Linked DNA regions of Homo sapiens: region 2 is linked to region 1. A link means that fine-mapping ties the variant in region 1 to the expression of a gene that starts in the linked region. Tissue or cell type: tibial nerve. Region 1 holds a variant in brackets; the other region holds the start of a gene. All regions are shown on one strand. Distances are from middle to middle.

Region 1 (5,059 bases):
TCAGAGTGGATATGCAGAGAGAAGGGCAATATTTTCTGCCAGCGTGTTGGTTGCTCTGTGCCCCTGTGATCTAGAATCTGGATGGTTAGTGGTGCCTCTCTTCAAAATCATATATAGGCTCTAGTAACCTAATGGCATGCTAAACTTTCATCTTACTGTGCTGATTGCCTATGTATCAATTTCCAAACCTCATGGTTTTTGCTACCAAATGAAGTAATTTTGTTTTGAACCCACAGTATACACACTCAGTAGATAGAGGAATAAATATGAATCTACATAAATAGACATATTTAATGGATACAGACAGATTATAGCCAGAATTCTTACCTTCTGGTACTTTTGTGGTCTCTTTTGAACTTTGTCCCTCAGTTGACTTATAACCAATGTATAGGTCAGCAGAGGCAGCAGCATGGCTGTGTGCAGGGGCTTTTTTTTGGGTGTTCTGATCTTGCAAGTTGCAATTAGAATTCTGAGTTTGCTATGCCATCTTGGGCTCAGATTCTTTTTCTCCATCAATCAAAGAGAGTATCATTTGCCCATTTCTTAGAATGAGACATTTTGAGATTGTGTCTGCAAAAGTACTTGATGCAAGATGATGCCTGGGTGCTTTACGAAATCAAGGGGCCCAATTGTGGCAGCTTTATTTTCATTATGCTCCTTTTTTAGGCCTTGTTTGGGGATATATTATTCACCGATTCAACAAATGCTTAGTGAGGAACTACTACGTCCAGCCCAGAGCTTGGACACTTCACAAGTCAAGAGAGTGTTGCCTTACTTCTTTGTTTCCTGACATATTTAACACAAGTCAGAATATTTAAAAGACTAAAAGTAAATGTATTAAGCATTTTGGTCAGTTTCAACACAAAATATAGTTCTGATAAGTTATCTATCAAAATTTTCTAATCTGTAGATTTGGTTTAAAATGCCTTTCAGAAGATGGAAAGATGTGATCAATGTGATGTTTTTACAGAGAAAATTCTAAATAGGTATTTCTCTTTATTCTAAAAGTGATTGTCTTTTGTTTTTCCAAATGACTCAGACTTACATATCCATGTTCTCACCTTGTAAACTGAAATCAGCAAGCCATCTTACTAAACAAAAATAGTGTAATCCTTTGTGTATATACCAACACAGAGTCCCAGGGCCTTGGGGAAAAGATGCAATAAAAATGCCTAAATAACATGGCTGACCTGATTTCTAGAGAAATTCTCTCTGCCTTGGGAAAGTAAGTTAGAGGAAAGCTTTTTCAGGGTTGCATCATTTGGCCCTATTCACCTCTCAGGAACAGTGACTTTCTGGTCTGTGTACTTGAAGACCAAGAGGCAGGCCGGAGATCCTAGTGAGGCTCAGGGATTTTGAGGAGCCCTGCCAGATCCCAGCAGTGACTCAGCGCTAATACACAGGGAAGAGTTCAGACTGCTATGCATCCGTTCACTGCTGTGTTCCATTATTACATGGTTATATACATGAAATGTCCACTGATGACATATCATAAGCAGAAGATTAGGCCTTGAATCTTAAACTTTTAAAATTTAAAAACAGTTGGCCAGGCACAGTGGCTCATGCCTGTAATCTCAGCACTTTGGGAGGCCGAGGTGGGTGGATCACCTGAGGACACAAGTTCAAGACCAGCCTGGCCAACATGATGAAACCCCATCTCTACTAAATATACAAAAAAAAAAAAAAATTTGCCAGGCAATCCAGGTGTGGTGGCAGGCACCTATAGTCCCAGCTATTCAGGAGGCTGAGGCAGGAGAATCTCTTGAACCCGTGAGGAGGCGGTTGCAGTGAGCCGAGATTGCACCACTGCACTCCAGCCTGGACAACAGAGCGAGACTCCGTCTGAAAATAAATAAATAAATAAATAAATAAATAAATAAATAAATAAATAAAAACAGCTCACAGGTATGATAGAAACACTTTATAAACAAAATTTAAATACAAATTATTTTTCTTATAGCTGATATTGAAATAGAATCTCCTGGCTGGAAAATAATTATTTTCTTCCATATTGCAGTCCTTTGTCACCAGTTTTTAGTCTGAAGTAAAAGTACCTTTTATATACTTAAATTATATGATTGTCAGAAGCTTTATCATACTAGTAACTGCAGTTATTAAAATTAGAATGTACACACAGTCTTACTGAAAATCCTGCATATTCTTCTGCTGGGAAAATGCAATGCAATAGTCCAGGTTGATCAGAAGCTTGGGTGTTGGATAACCCATTCAAGACACAGGTGGGCTGGTAAGCAGCTGGGAGAGGTATACCTACTGGGGCTCGATTCCTTAGGTTTATGCCCTGAGGTTACCATAGAGAGTTTTGATACTTCACATCAGCGTTACTTTTTTTTATTAATCATTTTATTATGAAAAATTTCAAACATGCAGAAAAGTTTAAAGAATTGTACAGTGAATGCCTGTAATCACCTAGATTCTACAATGAACATTTAGCTCTAGATGATCAGAAATCTATCAATCCATCTATTGACTCTGTATTTTTCTGTTAGATGCATTTCAAAGTAAGCTAAGCCATCAGTGCACTCACCCTAAAGACTTTAGGATGTATATATTAAACTGATATTAACTTGAGGTTCTTTCTTTTTTTATTGTGAGGTCAAATTTACATAGAGCAAAAAAAACAAATCTTAAGGACATCATTCAGTGAGTTTTGGAAAATATGTAATGCTGTGTAACCCAAATCTCTATTAATATACAAAACAATACTATTAATCCCCAAGTTTCCTCGTGCTCCTTATCAATCAGTCTCCACCTCTATCTCCTTAGAGGCAACCACCAATTTCTTTTCACCATAGATGAGCGTTGCTTGTAGAATAAGGGTGAATGGAATTACACAGCATGCGCTCTTTGTGTAGCTCTTCTTTCACTTAGCATAATGTTTTTCTATATTCATCCATATATTGTTGCA[C/T]GTATAGGCAGTTCCTTTTCTGCTGAATAGTATTCCATTGCATGAATCTACCACACTCTGATTATTTATTCTCCTATTGATCGACACCTGGGCTGTTTCCAGTTTTTGGCTATTATGAATACAGCTGCTAAGAACATTCTTGAACAAGTATTTTTTTTTCATATTTGGCCAGATGTTTTTTATTTCTTCTGGATAAATACTTAAGAATGAAATCACTGGCTTGTATAGTAGATATATGTTTAGTTTTACAAGATAACTGCCAGACTTTTTTCCAAAGTGGTTGTGCCATTTTATACTCTCACCACCAACAAATGAGAATTCTGGTTATTCCACACCTTCAACAACATTTGGGGTATTTCACCTGGTTTATAATTTGCATTTCTTTGATGACTAATGAAAGACATTTTGTCATATATGTATTTGATGTTTATTTATCTTCCATTGTGAAGTGTCTGTTTAAATCTTTTGACCACATTTTAATAGGGCAACTTTTCTTTTTATTATTGAATTATAGTCCTTTATCTATTCTGAATACAATTCCTTCATCAGATATGCGTTCTGTGAATATTTTTTCCCAGGCTGCAGCCTGCCTATTCATTTTTCTACTGGTGTATTTTGTGAAGTTTTAAAACTCAATGCAGTACAATTTATCATTTTAATGGGTATGTATTTCTGTTTCCTATGTAAGAAATCTTTGCCTGCCCCTCAAATAGTGAAGATAGCTTATTTTCTTCTAGAAGATTGATAGTTTTATGTTTTACTTTTAAATTTATAATTCATTTTGTGTGTGTGTGTATGTATGTGTGTGTGGTATGAGGCAGGAGTCAAGGCTAAGGATATTTCGTTGTCTAGCACATTTTTGTTGAAAACTCTTTTCTTTCTTTATTAGATTGCTCTGATGCTTTTGTTGAAAATTAAATTATATGTGTGATTCTATTTCTAGACTCTTTTCTGATCTATTGATTTATTTATCTATCCTACACCAGTACCATACTAATGAATATAGCTTTAAAATAAGTTTTAAAATCAAACAAGTTCTCTTTGTTTTCTTTTCAAGATTACTTTAAACATTTTAGATTCTCTGTATTTTCATATAAATTTTAGAATCAGATTGTCAATTCCTACAAAGAAAACCTGTTGAAATTATAATTGGGATTGTAATAAATCTTTAGATCAATTTTAGATAACTGACATCTTAAAATGTTGTATCCTCCAACCCATAAACAAGGTATGTCTCTTCACAGATTTAGATCTTTCAAAATTTTTCTCAGCAAGGTTTTGTAGTCTTCAGTGCACAAGTCATACACATGTTTTTAAAATTTATTCCTAAGTATTTTATGTTTCTGTAAAAAGAATTTTTAAAAATTTCATTTTCTGATTGCTACTAGTAGATACAAATATCATTAATTTTTGTGGATTGACCTTGTATCCTGCAATCTTACTAAGCTCACTTGTTGGTTCTAGTAGCTATTTATTTTACTTTATTTTATTTTATTTTTGAGACGAAATCTCACTCTTGTCCCCCAGGCTGGAGTGCAAGGGCACGATCTCAGCTCACCACAACCTTCGCCTCCCAGGTTCAAGCAATCCTCCTTCCTCAGCCCCCAAGAAGCTGGGATTACAGGCATGTGCCACCATGCCAGGCTAATTTTATATTTGTAGTAGAGATGGGGTTTCTCCATGTGGGTCAGGCTGGCCTTGAACTCTTGACCTCAGGTGATCTACCCGCCTTGGCCTCCCAAAGTACTGGGATTTCAGGAGTGAGCCACCGCACCTGGCCGCTCTTTTTTTATTCCTTAGGTTTTTATATGTAAACATTTTATGTCTCAACTGAGATTTCCCTTCTTTTTTTTCCTTCCAATTGGTATTCTTTTTTAAAAAAATTTTATTTCATTGGCTCCAATCTCCAGTACAATGATGAATAGAAGCAGTGAGAGACAGCATTGTTGCTTTGTTCCCAATCTTAGAGAGAAATCACTCAGTATTTCACCATTATGTGTGATATTAGTTGTAGATTTTTTTATGGGCACTCTTCACTTCATCAGCTTGAAAGGTACACTTTTATTTCCAATTTGCAGAAAAGAAAATCACAAGTGGCGCTGAATTTGTCATATGACTTTTTTGATCCATTGG
Region 2 (5,059 bases), 38 kb after region 1:
AAAGGCAAAAAGTATTTACATTCCTTAAAAAAGAAAACTTTACAATTTAAGGTTTACAAAACAAACCTGTGAGTCTCTAAAAGACAACTGAAATAACTAGTTTCCACTAATAGAAACCTTACTTCATTTTGAAGGATAACACATTTTCAAACATTTGAGATCCACCGAGAACAACCAATTTAATTTTTTTCAAAGATTACGGCTTCATTTTTACTAACCATCTCAGACCCAAATGAGTTATTGTGCTTATAGCAGACTCAAACTATCAGTTAGTAGAGCCAGTTCAATGACAAAACAAAGCAAAACCTCCCCCTAATGAAATGAAGTTTGTTACCATATATACACAGCCTTAATTCCATTTCCAAGAACTCAAAATTCCATCAAAAAATCCAAGAGCCATTGTTTAAACCACTGACTTCCAATTAGTAGGTCTCTTGACTTTACAGTTTAAAAAACATTAAATGAATATTGCCAGGAACCTCTTTTTATTGCTACCCACCAACTTACTTGGTGGCCGAAAAATCTAAATCTTGGGAAATCTAAATTACGTGTGTATCCAAAGGTTTATGCCCTGCAGTGTGTGGCTACTTCTATACATTGACTTTTAAATTCTTCTCTGCTTGTTTCCTTGGATGATTTCCTTGCTGATAGTTTTTGTATGATTTCCCACGGGATGGTGCAAACTCACAAAGCACTATTACCCCATAGTTAGACACAATCAGGTATATAAAGAACTGAGAAAAATTACCAGGCTCTGGTTAAAGCAGAAAGGGGTGGCCTGGAAGCTGTCTGGGAAATGGTGTGGAGCACTTTGTGTGGAATTGAGCAAAGGCTCCGGGTGCATCTCTGTCTGAAGGTAGGAATCAAAGATCTGGTCGAGGCAGCTTGAGTTTTCTTCACATGAAACACAACTGGAAAATTCTCCCCGTTGCAAATAATTGGGCGTGGAAGAAATTGGTTCAGGCTCAAAATACAGTCCTAGAGGAGAAAGGAAAAAGGCAGGTTTTTGCATAAAAATTGCAAAACACAGATTTGAATGGAGATCTATACTCTGAATATTTACTATGTCTAGGGGGAAAGGGGGCTTAACAAATCCAGAAAAGTAAACGGGAATGCAATTTTGACTCTTTAGTTGTCCTAGCTAATTCAAGCTCCAGGGAAATGAACATGGTTAATAATGTGGAAACTGGCTGTAAAACTGGTTAGGGCAAAAATAAAAGGATGGTGACCCAATTTGTGTCCAAGTGTCACAGTCAAATAATGGCTCAAACTTCCCCTTTCTTGGGCTGTAAAACCATGGACATCCAGCCCCTACCGGCAGTTCACGTAAACCTCTCAGAAGTAACTGACAAAGTTGTTGAGGCTTTGAGAAAACTTCTGATGCTACGGGAAATAATTCTTTTGACTTATGGTGATTGCTTTTTTGAACTTTTCACTCTTACTCAGTAACTTAAGTTTGGAGGAGAGAATTTTGAGAAGTGATTTAAATGAGAATGCAAATGATAATCATGGAAACCAGGAACATAGAGTACCAATTAACACTATTGGCTCGGAAGTACAAAAAGCAAAAATGTTTTCTCAGTGAACATGTTAACATCATGATGTGATCAAAGTAAGTTGTTAAACATCAAACAAAGATAATCAGTAAACATTACTCCTTTTCCATTTTATTATTAATAGGCCCAATTTGTGATAATTATCTGTAAATGCTGGAAGAAGAGAGGATTAGAGTGTGCTCATCAAAGGGACTAAAGGACACTGTGTTCTTCTTGAGGTCTCAAGTTCCTTTAAGGTGAAGCTACGGTGACACATTTAGTGGGGAGAGGCCATAGGCAGAGGTTTCCTTATATACGACCTCCTTAAACTCTTAGCTGTTGAGTAGCAGAGGTAGGAGTGTTTATGTAATCGAGTTATTCTTATTGGGCTGAGAAAACCTACACTTGTTTGAACTGCTTTCTGGGAACAGAGAAGGGGAGGGAAGCCCCTGTCGGCTGGAAACTAAAGGAACAGAGCAAAGGCATTATTTGAGTGTCTTGGGATGTTCTGTATTCCATCTAACAGTGCACTAAAAAAAGATAAGTTCCTGAGAACAATTCTGATTTTGTAGTTCAGTTTAGTTACTTGGCGATGAGGAACTGGAATAAATGTGAAGAACAAACTCTTGAGACAATATAGCAGAGAGTAGAGAATTCAGAAATGAAGACAACATTTATGCTTGTTTTCTTGCTGGGCTTGCATGTGGAGTGACTATGCCTTTTTCACCTTCTGATTGGTTGGATTCCAATTAAATGGTGGTGCCTATCTTAACCCCTGAATCAAGACTGAAAGACTTTTGAGATGGACTTTTGAAAGAGTGTTTGAGGGAACTGTTAATGCTGGCTGTACTGACCTGCAGAAGATGGTGCAACTGGGTCTGAAAGGTGGACACTGCTGCCTCCGGACCGCTGTCAAAGCAAGAATATCACCGTGAAGCAGGCTGAAAGAAATGCTCTGAAGGGAAAGCTAAGACATTTTGATGAGGACTATGTTTCTTTCTGCTATAAGGTAAGCCAGATTCTTCCTTCTCAGAAAAAGTTGCTTTCTTTTTTTTTTTCAATGTTTGACAAATTTTTGTACAAAATATATTGTAAAAAACAAGTGAAAGGGAAAGTGTCAACAAATATTTTATAGAATTTGAAAGACAGGTGCATAGAATTGCGGTAGGTGTATTAAGTCCGTGTAGAATTTAAAATGCCTTTTGACGTTTATAATCCTTTTAAGATTCAATCTGGAAAATTGCATTGGAACAATGAAAACCTGAAATCGAATCATAAAACAGACTTCTTAAATACAACCAATATTATGTTTTATCTAGATCCAATATTTATGTTTGCTTGCTTGGGGAGTTTTTTTCCTAATATCAGATTCTTCTACTTAAATTTTAAAAGTGATTAATTTTTAGTAAAAAATTAATGTAAATAATTTTATGTGGTAAAAATGTAACAGTTTGAGAAAATGCAGCAAAAGGCTTCCTATTAAACTATTCGATTTAAAATTATTAAGGACTAACATTTATTTAATCTCAACTATCTATGGCTTAGTCAATTATTTTTCTCAAAAATTTCATATACCATCTGGCTACTTAGCCTTAGGGAGTCGTTTCCCCAAAGAACACAATTCTTAATTTTGTTAATTCTGAGTAGCTAAAAATATTCACATGTTCTTAGTATACATGAAATATTAAAATAGAAAATATTTTCTTAAAGCTGTGGTTGGTGAGTTGGAACCTACTTTCATTCTAGTTAATGGTCGGGAATTATTCCAGTACTTTGTATGTTTTGTACTACTATCTATAAAAGTTGCTTTTATTTAAACTACTGTATTTAAATACTTAAAAGTTTATGAGACTGCTCTTTTTAACTATTCAAAGTAAAGCAGCCTGCATTTTTCAGTTGAATTAATAATTATACTGAGTAATTTAGGATTTTTTTTTTTTTTTTAAATTTCAGGTGTGGCTTTAAAGTTTAAAGGTACCCGTATTGCTCTGTGATTCTGTGCTGGGAAGCCGAGCTCACCACACCTCTTTTGGGTTACAGGGCATACTCACTCCCATACTCTGAGCCACAGGGAGAGCTGTGCAGGCAGCCACTGCTGAAACAGGAGGCAGTATTAATTTTGAAAACGATCCATGCTGTAATGTCATGAACCAGGAAGCTGGAATCCTTTACCAGCTCTTTATGCAAATATTTGGCTGCAGCTTGAGCTGAAGGACTTGGAAGGAGTGGGTATTAAAAAATCTGCCTCATTGTAGAGCTTTCCTTAACTCCATTCCTCCCCCGGATTGGCCTGTTTGTCTGCCTCCACCCCATGTTATCTCCCTGAGGTGTGTTTACAATATCCTACTTGATATTATCTTTCTAGTCATGGGTTCACTTTCTACTTTGCTCCAAGAATACAAAGAAAGGCAACTCTCTCTTAGATTTCAAACAGCACAAAAATTCACAGTCTACAATTTATAAAAACACATCAAGGCTGTTTAAAAAATTAATGATTTAAAAAAAGAAAGGTAAATGATATCTTTTGATAACGACTAACTCAAGTTTCCTTTTACCCCAAAGGCAAGTGTGTGTGTGTCTGTGTGTGTGCGTGCATGCGCATGTTTGCAAATTGATCTGGCTGAAATAAGTTTTTTAAAATCGAGTGTTCCAATCCGGCATACACACAGTTTCTTCCGGCACTGCTTGAAGAATATTTGAATTCTTTACTGAATGTCTGTCTCAACCTATAACTTCCATTCGTGATTGCCTTCTTAAAATTTTAAATTGTGGATACTACACTGACTTTATAACAAATTAAGATAGATTTCTTGCCACTTTGTAGTATTTGATATAATTAACCCTCTCCTTGGCTTAAAGTTTCCCAGAGGCATCCTTCAACAAATGAACAAACTGGGGATCATCTCTGTTATACCAGAAAGGTCTACACTAAGAAGCAGGCAACATCATCCCCTGGTGTCTGCTACCCTTGCCTACTAAGTACGCTCTCACAGCTTCTTTAGAATCCCAGATCCATCCGATGGCTTCCAGTGAGGGATTTTACGTCTGGCTTTTGTAATTAAATTATATGCGTGTTAAACCTGCTTGCTTGCGAGGGCATAGGCTGATGCAGTCTTAAGGGAAGCAAAGTAGAGCAGGCTTTACTCTGCCTGTTCCTATAAGACACTGGTTCAGAAGTCCTGCTTTATTTCTCAGGAGGGAATTCAGAAAAATTTAAATAAGTCAAACTACTCCGGGGAACAGAAACTGGTCAGATACACAAGTGAAGTGTGTTACCCTCACATTAGCTCCTGTAGCGAGCTAAGAAGGGAACAGTGGCCACACCCATCTGTAAGGGCCCAGCAGCAACAGAAGTGCCACACTCACATGGGGCTCTCCAGGTGCAGCTGAGCAGAACTGTAGCAAGTACCAAAGCTCCTTAAGGAAACGTTACATTTTATTATGAAAGTCTTGATGATGTTTTTCTCCAGAAGCATTTTCCAGTTCCCTTGTACCTGGTTTTGTTAATTATATAACCATCTCTG

What was found. PIP is the estimated chance that this variant, and not a neighbour inherited with it, causes the effect.
Region 2: it holds the start of COLCA1, and the variant in region 1 is the best candidate, but not a certain one, in a credible set for the expression of COLCA1 in tibial nerve (GTEx, PIP 0.64).

The regions. Positions count from the first base shown.
Region 1 is chr11:111,340,492-111,345,550 of GRCh38, reverse strand. No RefSeq gene overlaps it. Among named protein-coding and RNA genes, the nearest start is that of MIR4491, 4.7 kb to the left of the region's middle. The variant C/T (reference allele first, on the strand shown) is at 2,927.
Region 2 is chr11:111,302,313-111,307,371 of GRCh38, reverse strand. COLCA1 (colorectal cancer associated 1) reads left to right here and starts at 2,324. Exons shown (of 2, transcript NR_169237.1): 1 at 2,324-2,544. It overlaps POU2AF3 (POU class 2 homeobox associating factor 3), which reads right to left. Exons shown (of 5, transcript NM_001271458.2): 3 at 2,390-2,444; 4 at 749-978.